Linked DNA regions of Homo sapiens: region 1 is linked to region 2. Evidence: fine-mapped expression QTL. A gene starts in region 2. The other region holds a variant in brackets. All regions are shown on one strand. Distances are from middle to middle.

Region 1 (11,184 bases), 280 kb before region 2:
TTATGTTTAACTTTTGGAGTTACCGCCAGACTCTTCTAAAGTGACTGTACCATTTTACAATCCCACCAGCAATATATGCAAGTTCCCATTTCTCCACATCCTTACCAAAATTTGTCATAACTGTCTTAGTAAGTGTGAAGTGATTTCTCATTGTGGTATTGATTCGTATTTCCTTAATGGCTAATGATGTTGAGCATATTTTAATGTTCTTATTGACCATTTGTATATATTCTCTGAAGGAATATCTATTAAAATCCTTCTGATTTTTAAAATTGTGGTTTTATCTTTTTATTATTTAGTTGTAAGAGTACTTTATGGGCTGCTCATGGTGGCTCATGCCTGTAATCCCAGCACTTTGGGAAGCCGAGGCAGGTGGATCACTTTAGCCCAGGAGTTCGAGTCCAGCCTCCCACATGGTAAAACTCCATCTCTACAGAAAATACAAAAATTAGCTGGGTGAGATGGTGCACACCTGGAGTCCCAGGTACTCAGGAGGCTGAGGTGTGAGGATCACTTGAGCCTAGGAAGTCAAAGCTCAAGTGAGCCATGAGTGTGCTATTGCACTCCAGGCTGGATAACGGACAGCACAAGACTCTGTCTCAAACAAAAACAAAAACAAAAAACAAGCCAAGAGTGTTTTATGTATTCTAGGTACAAGTTGCTTATCAGGTATATGATTAGCAATTACTGCTCCTCATTCTGTGGATTTTCTTTTCCCTTCCTTGATGGTGTCATTTGAAGCACAATTTTTTTTTTTTTAGATGGAGTTTTGCTTTTGTTGCCCAGGCTGGAATGCAGTGGCGGGATCTTGGCTCACGGCAACTTGCACCTCCTGGGTTCAAGTGAGTCTCCTGCCTCAGCCTCCCAAGTAGCTGGGATTACAGGCATGCACCACCACGCCCAGCTAATTTTGTATCTTTAGTAGAGACAGGGTTCCTCCATGTTGGTCAGGCTGGTCTCGAACTCCCAACCTCAGGTGATCCGCCCACCTCGGCCTCCCAAAGTAAAGCATAAAATTTTGTATTTCGATGGTCCGATTTATCTATTTTTTGTTTTGTCACTTGTTTTTTGGAATCATGTCAAACATACCACTGGCTAACTCAGGTCACAAGGTTTATGCCCATGTTTTCTTCTAAGAATTGTACAGTTTTAGCTCCTGTATTTAAGTCGTTGATCCAGTTTGATTTAAGTTTTGTATATCATGTAAGATAGGCGTCTATCTTCATTCTTTTGCACGTGAATATCCTGTTGTCCTAGCACCACTTATTGAAAAGAGGATTCTTTTGACAATGGTGCTGAGAACATTGAATGATGTCAACATCATTGTCAAAAATTGACTACAGACGTATAGATTTATTTCTGGACTCTCATTCATTCATCTGCATGTCTATCCTTATGTCAGTACCACATGGTCTTGATTATTGTCAATTTGTAGTAACTTTGTAACTTTGAAACTGGGAAGCGTGAGAACTTTGTTCTTTTTCAAGATTGTTTTTGATTTTTCTGTGTCTTTTTTTTTTTTTTTCCTAAGGCAGAGTCTCGCTCTTACCCAGACTGGAGTGCAGTGGTGCAATCTCAGCTCACGCAACCTCTGCCTCCCAGGTTCAAGCGATTCTCCTGCCTCAGCCTCCTGAGTAGCTAGAATTACAGGCATGCGCCACCATGACCGGCTAATTTTTGTATTTTTAGTAGAGACAGGGTTGGTCAGTCTGGTCTTGAACCCCTGACCTCGTGATCAGTCTGCCTTGGGCTCTCAAAGTGCTGGGATTACAGGCGTGAGCCACCATGCCCAGCCCATCTGTGTCTCTTGAGTTTCAATGTGAATTTCATGGTCAGCTTGTTAATTTCTGAAAAAGAAAAGCTGAGATTTTGATAGAGGTTGCATTAAATCGGTAGATCAATTTGGATGCTATTGCCACCTTTTTTTTTTTTGAGACAGAGTCTCACTCTGTCGCCCAGGCTGGAGTGCAGTGGTGCGATCTCAGCTCACTGCAGCCTCTGCCTCCCAGGTTCAAGCAATTCCCCTGCCTCAGCATCCCAAGTAGCTGGGACTACAGGAACCCACCACCATGCCCAGCTAATTTTTGTATTTGTAGTAGAGACGGTGTTTCACAATGTCGGCCAGGCTAGTCTCAAACTCTTGACCTCAAATGATCTGCCCACCTTAGTCTCCCAATGTGCTGGGATTACAGGTGTGAGCCACCACACCCGGCAGGTATTACCATCTTAATAAGCCTTCTGACCCATGAACATGGGATGGCTTCCCATATATTTATGTCTTTAATTTCAGTTAGCAATGCTTTCTAGTTTTCAGTGTACGGGTCTTGAAGTTCTTTTCTTAAATTTATTTCCAGGTATTTTATTCTCTTTCATGCTGTTGCATGCTTTTGTTTGTTTTTGTTTTTGAGAGCAGAGTCTCATTCTGTCACCAAGGCTGGAGTGCAGTGGTGTGACCATGACTCACTGCAGCCTCAATTTCCCTGGCTCAAGTGATTCTCCTGCCTTAGCCTGCCAAGTAGCAGGCACTACAGGTGTGCACCACTGTGTTTGGCTAATTTTTTTTAATTTTTTTTAGGGATGGGTCTTGCTGTGTTGCCTAGGCTGGTCTTGAACTCCTGGACTCAAGCAATCTCCTCACCTTGGCTTCCCAAAGTAATGGGATTACATGCATGAGCCACTGCACCTGGCCTCTTTGATGTTATTGTAAATTAAATTATCTTCTTAATTTTACCTTTGGATTGTTCATTGCAAATGTATAGAAATACAATTGAATTTTGTATATTGATCTTGTATCTTACAGCCTTGCTGACTTGCTTATTCCAATAGCTTGTGTGTGTGTGTGTGTGTGTGTGTGTGTGTGTGTGTGTGTATTCATTAAGATTTTCTGTGTATAAGATCATGTTATCTTTAAATATAAGTATTTTTACTTCTCTCCTTCCAATCTGGGTGTTTTTATTTATTTTCCTTACCCAATTGCCCCCAGCTAGAACTTCCAGTATAATGTAAATAGAAGTGGTAAGAGCAGACATCATTGACCTGTTCCCACTTATAAGGGGGAAAGCTTTCAATCTTTCACCATTAATTATGTTGTTGGCTATGCGTTTTTCATAGATGCCCCTTATCAGGTTGAGGAAGTTCCCTTATATTCCTCAATTGTTGAGTGTTTTTATCATAAAAGGGTGTTGAATTTTGTCACAAGATTTTTCTGTGTCTATTGAGATGATCATACAGTTTCTTATTCTACTAATACAGTGTATTATATTGCTTGATTTTCAGAAGCTAAACCAACCTTGCATTCCTGGAACAAATCCCACCTGGTCATATTGTATAATTCTTTTTATATGTTGCTGGATTCAGTTTGCTAATATTCATTGAAGATTTTTGCGCCTATATTTATAAGAGATGTTGGTCTATAATTTTATTTTCTTGCAATGTCTTCAGTTTTGGTATCAGGGTAATACTAGCTTTATAGAATAGTTGAGAAATGTTCCCTTTTCTTCTATTTTTTAGAAAGTTTTTGAAGAATTTGTATTAATTCTTCTATTTTTAAATGCTTGGTAGAATTCAATATGGAAGGCATCTGGGCTTGGGCTTTTCTTTTGGGTAAATTTCTTTTTTAATACTATTTCAATGTCTTGACTTATTATAGGTCTATTCAGATATTCTCTTTCTTCTTGAACCAGTTTCAGTAGTTTGTGTCTTTCTAGGAAGCGATCCATTTCACGGAAGTTATCTAATTTGTGGACAAACAGTTGTCGTAGTATCCCATTGTAATTCCTTTTATTTCCATTTGGTCATAAAGTTTCCTCTTTCATTGCTGATTTTAGTAATTTTATTCTTCTCTTTTTTTCTTTTGGTCAGTCTAACTAAATATTTATCTTGTTGATATTTTCAAAGAACAAACTTTTGGTTACATTGATTTTCTGTATTGTTTTTCTCTTTTCTATTTCATTTATTTCTACTTTAATTTTTATTATTTTCCTACTGCTGCTTATGCTGAGCTTAGCTTGCTCTTTTGCTCCAGTTTTTTAAGGTGGAAGTTTAATTTATTCATTTGATATTTTTTCTTCTTTAAAATATAGGCGTTTATAGCTATAAACTTCTTTCTGCACTGATTTAACTATATACCATGAATTTTGGTAAACTGTAGTTTTGTTTCCATCTACTTCAAAGTATGGAAATAGGGCACATGGAAATTCCACAAAGCTCACTGTTTTTACCTAGATGCAACCATTTTTCTTTTTCTTTTTCTTTTCTTTTCTTTTTTTTTTTTGAGATGGAGTCTCACTCTGTCACCCAAGCTGGAGTGCAATGGCATGACCTTGGCTCACTGCAACCTCTGCCTCCCGGGTTCAATCGATTCTCCTGCCTCACCCTCCCAAGTAGCTGGGGTTACAGGTGCCCGCCATCATGCCCAGCTAATTTTTGTATTTTTAGTAGAGATGGGGTTTCACCATATTGGTCAGGCTGGTCTCAAACTCCTGACCTCAGGTGATCCACCCTCCTTGGCCTCCCAAAGTACTGGGACTATAGGTGTGAGCCACTGTGCCCAGCCTCAACCATTTTTCTTGAATAAAAGCTTCTCAGATAGTTGTAGATCTTTTGTTAATTTCCAGAGTTCTGAGAAAAGTTAATTTTGACAATTTTTGCAAAGTGTTCACATTGCTTATATGGAGGAGAGGATTTTCAGAATTTCTTCATCTGCCATTCATTCTCAAGTGCTGCCTTCCAGCTTTTGCTTGCCATAAAGTGTTTTTATCCTCCCTAGAATTCACTGGCAGTTGTGTTAAACTAGGCATAAGGTGGGGACAAATTGTAGATAAAGAGAGTTGAAAATGGTTAAAATAAAAATGGTTCAAAATGATTAGTCATCCATTGATAAGAAATGAGGACAAGCTTTTTCCTTGAGACACCTGAGTTTTTTAAAGTCCTTGGAAGCCATCATCAATTAAGTTTAAAATCTGCTCTGTTTATTTTTAGTTTTGTCAGCCCTTTAGTCTCACCATTTCCACACTGAGGATGAATGGGCCTTTGGAAAGTTATCCTAAGGGTTAAAAATAATGGCGATGATGATTTTCTACTTGTTCGAAGCCACTATGCTAAGGGAAGAGGAACTAGTTCTTATATGACCTAGGATGCTACTCCTTTGGTACATTAGTGATTTCCACCAAATTTATTCTATATGCAAGCATTAAGCATAATTAATACATTTGTTGAGCAATTTTCCAGTTAGATTACCTATTTATAGAGCTTTGTTCCAAGGGAGGCAAACGTCTCATTCCTCACAGCTAGAAGCGGGGCCCTGTTGGAACCATCATTAGTCTTAGTATTTACTCCCCAGTAATTTGTTAACTTTACAATAGGGTAGATCAAATACATAAAAATTCAAATGAACTGTATGACCACTTGACCGGGCAGTGCAAGAGGAGGAGGATTACAAATAATTCATAGAGTCAGCAGTTAGAGTTTTTTGGATACCTTAGTGACAACAGAGCCATATTAATGAAGCATAGGGGAGTTAATAATTTATCCAAGGTCAAATGGCTAGTAAGTGGACCTAAACCCTTCCTTTTTGGAACCTGGAAAGTGAGAGTAGAAAGGAAAGTCTTATCTCAATAATTTGCCGTAGTACTGAGACTGAGACAACTTTAGAATTCACTTTGGCTCCTCAATCCTCATTACCACTGCTCTAGGCCAGAGACTCTCAAACTTTATTGTGTATGTGAATCAGTTGGGAATCTTGTCAAAATGTAGATTCTAATTCAGTGGGTCTGGGGTGGAGCCTGATATTCCACATTTTTAATAAGCACCCAGGCAATGCCCATGCTGGTGTACAGATCTCACTTTGAGTGCCAAGGCTCTGGCCATCACAGCATCCATATCTGGATTAGCAGCAATATCTTTCCTTTTTTTTTTTTTTTTTTTTTTT[G/TG]AGATGGAGTCTTGCTCTGTCACCAGGCTGGAGTGCAGTGGTGTGATCTCGGCTCACTGCAACCTCCACCTCCCGGGTTCAAGCGATTCCCCTGCCTCAGCCTCCCGAGTAGCTGGGACTACAGGCGCACACCACCATGCCTGGCTAATTTTTTGTGTTTTAGTAGAGACGGGGTTTCATCATGTTGGCCATAATGGTCTCAATCTCCTGACCTCATGATCCACCCACCTCAGCCTCCCAAAGTGCTGGGATTACAGGCGTGAGCCACTGCTCCCGGCCAGCAGCAATATCTTTCTAAATGTTCTTACTGCCCTCCAGGCAGGTAGCAGAATTTTGCAAGAACTTTTTCTGTTTGTTTTTTTACTTTCTCAGAGTTGTCACCAGTGCTCCACTTATTCCTACACTAGTACATATTCTTTATCCCTCCATCCTTCATCCCTCCTGTAGCTATGGCACCTTAGCATTCCAAAAAGGCAGAATTTAGGCTGGGCATGGTGGCTCATGCCTATAATCCCAGCACTTTGGGAGGCTGAGGTGGGTGGATCAGTTCAGGTCAGGAGCTCAAGACCAGCCTGGCCAACATGGTGAAATCCTGTCTCTACCAAAAATATAAACGTTAGCCAGGCATGATGGCACGTGCCTGTAATCTCAGCTACTTGGGAAGCTGAGGCAGGAGAATCACTTGAAACTGGGAGGCTGAGGCAGGTGAATCACTTGAAACCAGGAGGCAGCAGTTGCAGTGAGCCTAGATCGTGCCACTGCACTCCAGCCTGGGTGACAAAATGAGACTCTGTCTCAAAAAAAAAAAAAAAGAAAGATAGAACTTTATATTTTTATGTTAACTCGAGATATTTTATTGACCACTTAGCCTATGTGGTGCAATTGGAAGCAGGCTACGTCCTAACTTAAGACCAACTAAAAAAGGTAAACATTCACTAGCATTTATAAGCTCCTATCTTACAGTGCCTTTCCTAATCTCTTCTCACTTTTATGCCCTTCCATCACCTTGGCCAATTTATCTGGTACATGGGTCTTGATTTACTCTATGATTTATATCATTAACTAGCCTTTGCTAGGTACACACATTTATCAGTAGAACTGATTCCTGTCAGAAGGCTATAAAATGTGCATGCAAGAAAGAGGTAGGAAATAACCTAATATTCTAAAGAAGGAATAAAAATAAAGTACTTGCATTGTTCAGCAATTCACAGCTATTCCAAGAGGGACTATTATTAGATCCCGCAGAGAGAATGAATGAGAGGCAGATTCAAAAACTGTATGCATTCCTTTGATTTGCAATTGAACCACATCATGATTAATATTGGTGAAGGTGCTATTCCACAGTGAACCAAATTACCCCCAAGGTTTTAGTAAACATTCTCTTTTGGCTCCTAGTGTTGAAGCACCCAATAGGTAGACTAAACACATTTATTCATTTATTCAACAAACATTTATTGAACACCTATTATGTGATAGGCACTGTTTTGAGGGATGGGGAAATAGTAGCAAATAAGACTAAGTTTCTGCTTTCATGGAACTTATATTCTAATGCAGCAGGCAGGTATTAAAAAAATAAATGCATAGGATAGTGTGATAGAGGGGATACAGAGTAAATGTGGCCCAGATGTGGTGGCTCACACCTGTAATCCTAGCCCCTTTGGAGGCCAAGGTGGGAGGATCACTTGAGCTCAGGATTTCAAGACCAGCCTGGGCAACATGGTGAGACTCTGTCTGTATAAACATTTTAAAAATTAGCTGGACGTGGTGGCGTGTGCCTGTTGTCCTGGCTACTTGGAAAGCTGCGGTGGGAGGCTTGCTTAAGCCCAGCAGGTCGAGGCTACAGTGAGCCATAATCATGCCACTGCACTCCAGCCTGGGAGACAGAGGGAGACCTTGTCTCAAAAAAAAAAAAAAAAAAAAAAAGAGTAAATATGGGTGCTGCAGTGATAAACAGGGCTTCTCTAAATAAATGACATTTGAACAAAGACCTCAATAAAATAGGGGATTAAGCCACACAAATATGTAAGGAAGGGGCATTCCGTGTAGTGAGAAGTGCCAAGTGCAACGGCCTTGTGGAAGAGCACATTTGGCTTCTTTGAGGAAGAACAGATAAGCCAGTGGGGCTGGACTGGAGTGAATGAAGGGAAGAAAGGTAGGAAATAAGGTCAGAATAGTGGCCAGGATTTAGATATTATTAAGTTATGAAAGTCCTCGTAAGAATTTTGGATTCTACTTTGAGATATGAAGCCACTGGAACATTATAAGCACATTGATGACATGATTTGACTTACATTTAAAAGGATCTCTTGGAAGACGAAGGCGAGTGACTCACTTGAGCCCAGGAATTTGAGACCAGCCTGGGCAATGGATGACAGGGCAGCTTGTAAATGTACCTAAAACTCTTGCATTTTTGGAATTTGGAAAGTGAGAGTGGAAAGTGAAGGGGTAGCCTGCCCCTCCACACCTGTGGGTGTTTCTCGTCAGGTGGAACGAGAGACTTGAGAAACAAAAGAGACACAGAGACAAAGTATAGAGAAAGGAAAGTGGGCCCAGGGGATGGGCACTCAGCATACGGAGGACCTGCGCCAGCACCAGTCTCTGAGTTACCTCACTATTTATTGATCATTATCTCTACCATCTTGGAGAGAGGGATGTGGCAGGACAATAGGGTAATAGTGGGGAGAAGGTCAGCAGGAAAACATGTGAACAAATGTCTCTGCATCATAAACAAGGCAAAGAAAAAAGTGCTGTGCTTTTGATGTGCATATACATAAACATCTCAATGCCTTAAAGAGCAGTATTGCCACCAGCATGTCTCACCTGCAGCCCTAAGGCGGTTTCCTCCTATCTCAGTAGATGGAATATACAATCGGGTTTTACACCAAGACATTCCATTGCCCAGGGATGAGCAGGAGACAGATGCCTTCCTCTTACCTCAACTGCAAAGAGGCCTTCCTCTTTTACTAATCCTTCCTAGCACAGACCCTTTATGGGTGTCAGGCTAGGGGACGGTCAGGTCTTTCCCTTCCCACGAGGCCATATTTCAGACTATCACATGGGGAGAAACCTTGGAAAATACCTGGCTTTCCTAGGCAGAGGTCCCTGTGGCCTTCCACAGTGTTTTGTGTCCCTGGGTACTTGAGAGTAGGGAGTGGTGATGACTTTTAACAAGCATGCTGCCTTCAAGCATTTGTTTAACAAAGCACATTCTGCATAGCCCTAAATCCATTAAACCTTGAGTTGACACAGCACATGTCTCTGCAAGCACAGGGTTGGGGGTAGGGTTACAGATTAACAGCATCTCAAGGCAAAAGAATTTTTCTTAGTACAGAACAAAATGGAGTCTCTTATGTCTACTTCTTTCTACATAGACACAGTAACAGTCTGATCTCTCTTTTCCCCACAGAAAAGAGGGTCTTATTTAAATAATTTGCCCTATCACTGGGATAGCTTTGGAATTCACTTTGGCTCTTCAATCCTCATTACCACTGCTCTAGGCCAGAGACCTACAAACCCTGTCTCTACAAAAAATACAAAAATAAGCTGGGTTTGGTGGCACGTGTCTGTAGTCCCAGCTACTCAGGAGGCTGATGTGGGAGGATTGCCTGAGCCTGGGGAGATTGAGGCTGCAGTGAGCTGTGATCACACCACTGTACTCCAGCCTGGGCAACAAAGCAAGACCCTGTCTCAAAAATAAATAAATAAATGGATCTCTGAGGCTGTTGTGTGGAGGAGTCATGAGGTCAAGAGTGGTAGCTGATAATCCGGTTGGGAAACTATGAAAGTAGTCCAGGAAAAAAACGATAGTGGGTCATACTAGAGTGATAGCAATAGAGGTAGAGAGAGTGAGCAGTCAGACTGAGGATGTATTTTCAAGGTGGTGCCAACAGGATTTGCTAATGAATAGAATGTAGAGTATGGAACTAAGAGGACAGTCATGGATGACTCCAAGAATTGGGGCCTGAGCAATCGGTCCAATTTACTGGGAGGGTGATCACCAGAAAGGAGCAGGTATAGAGAGGAAATTGAGAGTTTTGTTTGGACATGTTACAAATGAGACACCTATTAGGCATCTGTGGTAGATTAAAGATGGCCATAGAGCTTTGTTTCCCTTCCCTTTGAGAGGTGGTGTCTAATTTCCCTCCTCTTGAATCTGGGTTGATTTAATGACTTGCTTGACCTACAAACGGGTAAAAATGACAATCTGGGACACCTAGGGTTAGGCCATGAGAAGCCTTGCTGTTTCTACCCAGGCCTCTTGGAACACTCTGGGTGCCCTGAGCTCCCACATAAGAAATCTTACCTCTCAGCTGGGCGTGGTGGCTCACATCTATAATCCTAGCACTTTGGGAGGCCAAGGCGGGCAGATCACGAGGTCAGGAGTTCGAGATCAACCTGGCCAACATAGTGAAACCCTGTCTCTAGTAAAAATACAAAAAATTAGCCGGGCATGGTGGCAGGCACCTGTAATCCCAGCTATTCAGGAGGTTGCAGTGAGCCGAGATTGCATCATTACTCTCAAGCCCGAGTGACAGTGCGAGACTCCGTCTCAGAAAAAAAAAAAAGAAATCTTACCTCTCTGAGATCACCAGGCTGGAGAGGATCCATAGGTATTTCAGTCAATTGTCCCAGATAAACCCAGCTTTCCAGCCATCACTGCCAGGGTGCCAGATGTGGGAGGGAAGCTGTCCAAGCCTCCCCAGTCATGCTTCCTGTATAGCCTGCAGAACCATGAGCCAATTAAACCTCTTTTTTTTTTTTTATAAATTACCCAGATTAGGTATTTCTTTATAGCAGTGCAAGAACGGACTGGTACAAAAAGGAAGTCAATTATATTGAAATACCATTCTATCCATAGACCCAAAAGATTAAAAAGCCATCCCACCAATAAAGTGTGGATAAAAAACAGATTGTTAATGCCATCAGTGTTGATAAAGAAGAGGTCTCAGACTGAACGCTAAGGCACTTAAACACAGCTGTTTAGAAACTAACAAAATGGATTAACATAGGAAACTGAGATGGAATAACCAGTGCCATGGGAGGAAAACCAGAAGACTTCAGAGTCATGGAAGCCAAGTGAAAAAAGGAGTAAAAGGGAAGGACATGACTAATTATATCGAATTTTGGTGAGAGGTGCAATAAAATAAGTCCTGAGAATTGACCCTTAGATTCGGCAACAAGGAGGCCATTAGCAACCTTGAACAAGTGGTTTCACCTTTTGTGGAGTGGATATAGATAACATTTTTGAGTGCTCT
Region 2 (8,665 bases):
TGTGAACCAGACGGCCGACTGACAATTACTCAACAATCACCCCTGCTTCTCGCTATCTCTTTTACCTAATAAATACGGAGGGCTGTGTAAAGCTCAGGACCCTTGTCCACTAGACGCTAGGTTCCCCCTGACTCCTTCTTCCAAATATACTCTTTTGTCTACTGTCTTTTATTCCCGCGTTTGCCCCCTTTGTTCAGTCCAATAGATCCGCGGCATAGTGGCACCCCCAACAGCAACAGAATTGGGCTGTCAACGTGAATGGAACAGACAAAAGTGTAGGACTTTGACATGGACTGAGATTCAAATCTCAACCCTGCTACTGACTAGCTATGTGATCTTGTCTACGTTGTTTTACCTCTCAGACTTTCAGTTTCCTGAGGCTCCAAGGAAGATGATGGTAATATTTGCTTCTGAAACTGCCCCTATAAACTTTATAAAATTAGGCCGGGCACGGTGGCTCACACCTGTAATCCCAGGACTTTGGGAGGCTGAGGCGGGTGGATCACCTGAGGTCAGGAGTTCACGACCAGCCTGACCAATATAGTGAAACTCTGTCTCTACTAAAAATACAAAAATTAGCCTGGCGTGGTGGTGTGTGCCTGTAGGCCCAGCTACTCAGGAGGCTGAGACAGGAGAATTCCTTGAACCCGGGAGGTAGAGGTTGCAGTGAGCCAAAATCATGCCACTGCACCCCAGCCTGGGAGACAGAGCAAGACTCCATCTCAAAAAATACATAAAATTAATCAGGAAAGAAGGGAGGGAGGGAGAAACAAAAACAAACCAAGCTGGCAGCAGGTTCAGCATTCATGATTAACTCGGCACACTCTCCCATCTGCTTCCTCACACTTTGGTGCCTATTGTTCTAGAATCACTAGACCCAGTTACAAGATTATAGTTCACCTTAACTGCTCTTTAAATAGCAACTCGAACATTATGAAATGTTGTTTTCACTTTGAGATATTCCTTCAGGTCCTGATATGGAAGAAACTACTGATGTCAGCTGAAGGACCACACTGATGCAGCTGTCCTGAAGGACTCCCCGAGGAGCTACCTCATCAAAAAATACAGTTTCCACTTTGCGATGATTTTATCCCCCTTGCCCCAACCGACCAGCAACCCCAATTTTCCAGCCCCTCACTCTCCACAATCCTCTTAAAGCCCCAGGCCAGAACTTCTTGGGAGACAGATTTGAGGGTTTCCTTCCACTTCCTTGCTGGGTGGCCTGTGATCATTAAACTCTTTCTTTGCTGCATCCCTGCTGTCTTAGTGTAATTGGTCTATACTATGCAGTGGGCATGCAAACCTGTTGATGACCCCTCCTTGGGTCATCATGAGGACTAGAAATACTGGATACCAAGGGCTATTCTAGTGCAAGATTGCATCTCCTCTGTGCTGTGCAGAGAGGATAATCACTATCTCTTCAAACGCAGTGTCCCACATATATTCAGGAATTCCTGCAATTATGAGACAAATATTACTGTTTGTTGTTATAATTATTTCTCAAGCATTATCCCACCAGACCAATGAAATGGAAGTTGTAGAGAAAAAAGTGGGGGACAAATCTGTCTGTTTTTGTTTGTTTGTTTGTTTGTTTTTGAGAAAGAGTCTTGCTCTGTCGCCCAGGCTGGAGTGCAGTGGCATGATCTTGCCTCACTGCAACCTCCACCTCCTGTATTCAAGTGATTCTCCAGCCTCAGCCTCCCAAGGAGCTGGGACTACAGACGCCCGCCACCATGCCCAGCTAATTTTTGTAGTTTTAGTAGGGATGGGGTTTCACCATGTTGGCCAGGCTGGTCTCGAACTTCTGACATCAAGTGATCCACCCGCCTTGGCCTCCCAAAGTGCTGGGATTATAGGCATGAGCCACCACCCCTGACTAAGTCTGTCTGTTTTTGAAGTACAAAAAAAAAATCCAAAAGAAATTTCCACCAAACAGATAACAATGACTTTTGCTTTTTATAGCGTACACATCTGTATCATCTGAATTATTTGATAAAAAAGCATTTTTTAATTACTTGTTTGTTACTGCTTTATTGTTTTAAGTGAACTGTTCCCTCCACAGTTAGATCAGAACTCATTGAAACCTAAGATCAGAGAACTGAATTGAGTAGAGTTTTGTCTTGGGGTAAAGCAAAGGAAAATCTTTTTCCTTGATCCTTTATTCCATATTCTAACTCTCTGTGTGCGAGTATGTAACAGCCGTGATTTAACTTAATCACCATGACTTGACAAGCTGCAGCCTTTGAGACTGACTGAGTCATCAAGTTTGGGAAACAGATTTTGTTTGACCTGGTGCGGCCCAATCTTATCTGTATCTTCAATTTAAGGACAAGTGAGTAAATATGTGAGCCACTCTGTGTTTCTGGCACTTTTTTCTCTTATTCTTACTTTGCAAAGACTTTTTATGCCTGCAATTTTATTAACACTTCTAATATCCAAAAGAAACAGTGATTCTGTAACAAGTTATCTTAAAAGAAAAAAAAAAGAGAGAAGCAGAATGCGATATGTAACCCAATACCGTTTCTATAAATTAAATGTATATGACCACAGTGCACATTATGTAAGAACATGGAAAAAAAAACTGTATGCAAATCAAATACATCACAGTAGTTACCTATAGTAGGAGGAGAAAAGCAGGAAATTGAGTTTTTTTGGTTTTCTTTTGAGACGGGATCTCACTTAGACACCCAGTCTAGAGTGCAGTGCCACGATCGCAGCTCGCTGCAGCCTCCACCTCCCAGGTTAAAGCTATGTTGCCCACGCAAGTCTTGAATGCTTGGCCTCAAGTGGTCCTTTTGTCTCAGACTCCAAAAGTGCTAGGATTACAGGCATGAGCCACAGCACCCAGCCTGGGAATGGAGTTTTGTTTTATATTAAGTTACATAAATTAATGAGAAGGGAGAGAGTGAGAAAGAAAGAATTTGGCAGACCAGTGGGGATAAAGTGCCACCAACTCTGATTAGTGTGAAGAATTCAACTCTCGGCATTGTGTTTTTAGGGTCCATCCAAGTTGCTTTATGTACATGGAACCCAGTGCTTCTGATGCTGTGTATATCCTGTGGCATGCGTCCACCACGCTTGGTCCACACACTCTGTTATGGGCTGAACTGTGTCTTCCCCAATTTCATGTGTTAAAATCCCCAAGTCCCAGTACTCAGAATGTAACTGTATTTGTAGATAGGGCCTTTAAAGAGGTAATTAAGGTTACATGAGGCCATATTAGTGAGCCCTAATCCATTTGACAGTATTTGAAGACAAGGCCTTCAAAGACGTGTTTAAGTTAAACGGAGGCTGACAAGTGGGGCTCTAATCCAATATGGCGGGTATCCTTACAAGGAGAGACATTGAGCCAGGTGTGGTGGTGGGCCTGTAATCCCAGCTTCTAGGGAGGCTGAAGGAGGATCACCTGAGTCCAGGAGTTCAAGGCTGCAATGAGCTATGATGCCCACCATTGCACTCCAGCCTGGGTGACAGAGCAAGACCTCAAAATAATTAAAATTAAATAAATAAATTAAAGACATTGAATCTTCACAATGACTGGAAGTTAGGCATTCTTCTTATCCCCATCTTGCAGATGGCTGAACTGAGTGAGGCAAGGAGAAGGTAAGTAAGTCTTTGAAAGCTACACCACTAGTAAGTGGCAGGTGCAGGCTTCGAACCTGCAGTCGTCTAATACCAACGACTTAGCTTCACGTTCAACCCCTGCCTGAGACCACCTCTCCTTGCAGAAGCCAGGTCAAGGCCTGATGTTTGCTAGGGTGTGATGGGTGGGGTGCCTCAGTGGCAAGAGTGCTCACTCCTGCCTGGGGGAGTCTGGCAAGGGTTCACAGAGGTGACCTTGAATTGGCTGGTGGAAGGCGAGTAGGTGTTCAGCAGGCGGACTGGGGACAGACAGGCAGGGTGTCTGCACCGCAGCCCTGGGCGAAAGCTTGCACTGCGGGCAAGCGGCAGGGCTGACGGGGAGCCCAGGGATCGGAGCCAGCACCGGGGGCTTATTAGGGCTGCGGCCGCCCCAGGCCCTGCCTTTGGACCCTTCCGGCCTGCTTGGCAGATGCCACGGTTGGTTCCCCCACGGGGCATATTTCCGCCGGGCTCCAACTTAGGACCCCAGGCGGAGGTCCAGTGTCAGCTGGACAAAGCTCTGTTAGGAATTTTCCTATCAGGAGTCCCTAACCCCCTACACGCACACACACGGGCGCGCGGGCGCGCACGCACACACACGCACACATGCACACATACGCGCGCGCACATGCACATAGGCACACAGAGATACGCGCACACACACACACAAACGCACTCAGATTTCCCGGACCCTGGTTTTCCTCCTGTGACCCTTTCGGGGCCGGGCTCTCACCCTAAAGAAGCAGCCCCGCCCTGGGGTGGCCCCACCCTCTCTTGGGACCTGTCATAAGTCGGACCCCGGGCGCCCGGCTGCGCAGTCCCAGCCGCCTTCCCCAGGCAGTGGAACCTTCGGGCTCCTGTAAGTAGACCTCCTGCTTTCTTTCCTTCCCTTTTCTCCCTCCTCTAACCCCCTTGCTTTCTTCCTGCCAAGTTTCTAGACGCCCCAGTGGAGGAGGTTTGCTCTTAGACCTCCTCCCCTTACGTCGAAATGACCGCTGGGTCTTGCACTCGGAGGATCTTGGGAGCCGACGTCCCGACGCCTCCCGCCCCCGCAGTTCCTTGGAGAGCTTGGAGCCGCGCGCCGGAGGGAATAGGAAAGCTTGGTTACAACCCGGGACACCCGGTAGCTTCCTGCACCCGGGAGGGGGCTGGCCAGGGAACTTGCTGGACTGCACAACTGGGGGAGGGTAGAAGAAGAAAGATCGGGGTGGGGATTCGGGAATGGGCAAGCGGGCGGCGGGCGGCGGGAGGCGAGGGTGGGAGCAAAGGGCGAGCGGGCAAAGGCCGGGCGCCGCGCCAGGCCCCCTCCTCGGGCGGGCGAGACTTTCCCGGGACCTGGCCCCTCTGCGGCCAGACCCTTTCCAGGAGGGCTTCTGGACTTGTAGCGAGTTTGGAAGCCCAGCGGTTGCTTTTTTGGGGAAAGGGACAAAGATGTGTGAACTCTAAAGAAGTTGAACTCATAGAAATAACGACTAGAATGATGGTTGCCAGAGGCTGGGAGCGGGTTCGGGGGGGAATGGGGGCTTGTTGGCCAAAGGGTACGAAGTTCAGAGACGAGAGGAGTAGGTTCTGAGATCTGTTGCACAGCAGAGTGACTAGAGCCAATAATGTGTATTTCGAAATAACAGAGTAAACTGCAAATGTCTCACCGTAAAAATGATACGTAGGGCCTGGCGCGGTGGCTCACGCCTGTAATCCCAGCACTATGGAAGGTCGAGGCGGGCGAATCATTTGAGCTCAGGAGTTCTAGACCAGTCTGGCCAACATGGGGAAACCCCGTCTCTACTAAAAGTACAAAAATTAGCTGGGCGTGGTGGCGGGCGCCTGTAATCCCAGCTACTCAGGAGGCTGAGACAGGAGAACCGCTTGAACCCGGGAGACGGAGGTTGCAGTGAGCTGAGATCGCGCCATTGCACTTCAGCCTGGGCGACAGAGCGAGACTCCGTCACAAAAAAAGTCTTAATTTTAAAAAAAGAAAAGAAGGAACAACCCCGGGCTGCAGATCAGACCGCCCCCCTGGCTCCCTCGCAATGCGGGAGTGCTCCCTCCAGGTCACCGTGTCCCCTCCCGCGGCACCGGTAGGGGAGCTGGGGAGATCACTGGCAGCTCCAAATGGTTTCGTAACTGGATTGTTTGTAGCGGATGCACCCGCGGGAAGGCGCAGGTCCCAAGTGATTCGGCAGAGTTCAGTCCAAGCAGAACATCCTGAACCCCCAGCTCGGGGCAGCCTTCATCATCTTCCCTTGCTTTGGTGCAGCGTTTCAGCTCAAAATCGGTTTGGTGTGGAGTTTAAACTCAAATCCCTACTGGGCCAAAGAAAATTCGCACCCGATGGCTGAGTGCAAGTGGTTCACACCTGTAATCCCAGCACTTTGGGAGACCGAGGCGGGCGGATCGCCTAGGCAACACAGTGAGGCTCCTCTCTACAAGAAAAGAGAGAAAAAAAAGTATTTAAAAAAAAAAAAAACGCACCTGAAAATGGGGCGGAGCAGCGGCGCCCTCCGGTGGTTTTCAGGAGTTCTGAGACTGCCTTGAAATGCGTGGCTGTTTCCATCTGAAAGAGGTGCATGGACTTCTATCTATTGGGTTCTTTGTGTTTGATGCTTTTTCTTAGAATTCACTCCATGTGAGATGAGAAACGGAATGGAATATTCGCACTTCCGGTAACTGTTCAGTGCCGTAGAGAAACTCTAGCCTAGCAGTGGCTGGGAAGAATTTCTTTGTTGTTTTATATTTTTTCCTTGTCTTGAAGATTTCTTTAAACCTCAGTTTCCTCATCCGTACACTGGCAATGATACTAATGTCTATCTTATAGGGAAGTTATAAGGATAAAATGAGGTAATCTATATGAAGTGCTTAGCACAGCACCAGAAACATAGTAAATGTTAAATGAATGTGGTTGGCATGATATGATAATGATGGGATTTGAGGATATTGTAATTGTGCTGTCTGGTCTCAGTTTGACGGCTAGAGAACTGTTAGAATGCAGTCACTTCATGGCAGTTGACTACATATTTACTGTGTTCTAGGAGCTTCAGGATGGTTCGTACTAAGACATGGACCCTGAAGAAGCACTTTGTTGGCTATCCTACTAATAGTGACTTTGAGTTGAAGACAGCTGAGCTCCCACCCTTAAAAAATGGAGGTAAGTCATACTAAAAATATTTCAGAGTTGGAAGGGACTGTATCAGTTAGCTTTTGCTGCATAACAAACTACCCCAAAGTTTAGTGACTTTAAGCAACAACGGTTTATTAGTTCACAATTCTTTGGGTTGGCAATTTGGGCTGAGTTAAGCTGGGTGGTTCTTCTTAGGTCTCATCTGGGGTAAATGGTTAATTTAGGATGGGCCTTGCTCACATGTCTGCTGATTAGCAGGCTTTCTGTTGGGGTGCATGCCTTAGTTCTCATCTATGTGGCCTTTCTAGCAGGCTAGCTTGAGCTCTATTCTTATAGTGGCCCCATAGATCTAGAGCAGCAGTAGTTGGCAAGCTCCAATGTGCAAGCACTTTCTCTTTTTTTTTTTTTTTTTTTTTTGAGACAGAGTCTTGCTCTGTTGCCCAGGTTGGAGTGCAGTGGCATGATTTTGGCTCACTGCAACCTCTGCCTTCTGGGTCCAAGCGATTCTCTTGCCTCAGCCTCCTGAGTAGCTGGGATTACAGGTGTGCGCCACCATGCCCCCCTAATTTTTGTATTTTTTCTGAGATGGAGTCTTGCTCTGTCACCCAGGCTGGATTGCAGTGGAGCAATCTCGGCTCACTGCAACCTTTGCCTCCCAGGTTCAAGCAATTCTCCCTGCCTCAGCCACCTGAGTAGCTGGGATTACAGGCGCCCACCAACACGCCCGGCTAATTTTTTTTTTTTTTTGTATTTTTAGTAGAGATGGAGTTTCACTGTGTTGGCCAGGCTGGTCTCGAACTCCTGACTTCAGGTGATCCACCTGCCTCGGCCTCCCAAAGTGCTGGGATTACAGGCGTGAGCCACAGTGCCCGGCCTTAATGTTTGCATTTTTAGTAGAGACGGGGTTTCCCATCTTTGCCAGGCTGGTCTTGAACTCCTGACCTTAGATGATCAGCCCGCCTTGACCTCCCAAAGTGCTGGGATTAAAGGTGTGAGCCACCATGCCCCGCTGTGCAAGCCCTTTTCAAGCCTCTACTTGTGCCACGTTTGCTAATATCCCATGGTCAAAGCAAATCACAAAACCAAGCTCAGATTCGAGAGGCAGAAAATAGATTTCTTGATGGGAGAAGTGGCAAGGAGACAAGCACACAAGGGTGGGAGTTATTTGTGGCCATTTTGCAATCTGCCACAAAGACCTTTCCAGGGTTCTCAGTGTGAATCCTCGATGTCACATGGCAGGATTCCCCTGCTTTCATTGATAACTGAAATTCATGCTTGAGTGCATTACTCTTCATGGCTTTGACCAGACTATGGGGAGGATGTCCTCTCTATCCTCATAAGCCTGATGATGGCAGTGAGGTAAGCACTGCCCAGTAGCTATACGAAGAGTTCAGACTATAAGATGAGTCTCGGCTGGGTGTGGCGGCTCACACCTGTAATCCCAGAACTTTGGGAGGCTGAGGCAGGCAGATCACAAGGTCAGGAGATCGAGACCATCCTGGCTAACACAGTGAAACCCCATCTCTACTAAAAATACAAAAAATTAGCTGGGTGTGGTGGTGAGCACCTGTACTCCCAGCTATTTGGGAGGCTGAGGCAGGAGAATAGCATGAACCCGGGAGGTGGAGATTGCAGTGAGCCAAGATCGCGCCACTGCACTCCAGCCTGGGCGACAGAGCAAGACTCCATCTCAAAAAAAATAAATAAATAAAGATGAGTCTCTAAGGAGTGTTTACAGGTAGGTAAGCATTTGAGAAAAGGGGACGCAATCAAGTAGCATGACAAAGTGATCAGTCCCATCTAAGCTATGATGGCCATGACTCAAATTCAAAATTCCAAAGAATGAATACATGAGAGTCACTCCAGCAAAATGCATGTTCTCTCACACCAACTGGGGCTGGCGATGAAGCCATATGGTGAGCACTG

The links.
Region 1: its variant is fine-mapped to the expression of PTGR1 in lymphoblastoid cells (TwinsUK, PIP 0.95).

Annotation. Positions count from the first base shown.
Region 1 is chr9:111,873,453-111,884,636 of GRCh38, reverse strand. No RefSeq gene overlaps it. Among named protein-coding and RNA genes, the nearest start is that of UGCG, 18 kb to the left of the region's middle. RefSeq lists an enhancer at 8,972-9,822. The variant G/TG (reference allele first, on the strand shown) is at 5,930.
Region 2 is chr9:111,595,418-111,604,082 of GRCh38, reverse strand. It overlaps PTGR1 (prostaglandin reductase 1), which reads left to right and starts at 4,436. Exons shown (of 10, transcript NM_001146108.2): 1 at 4,436-4,480; 2 at 6,651-6,766. The coding sequence starts at 6,661. It also overlaps the pseudogene LRRC37A5P. RefSeq lists an enhancer at 4,013-4,585.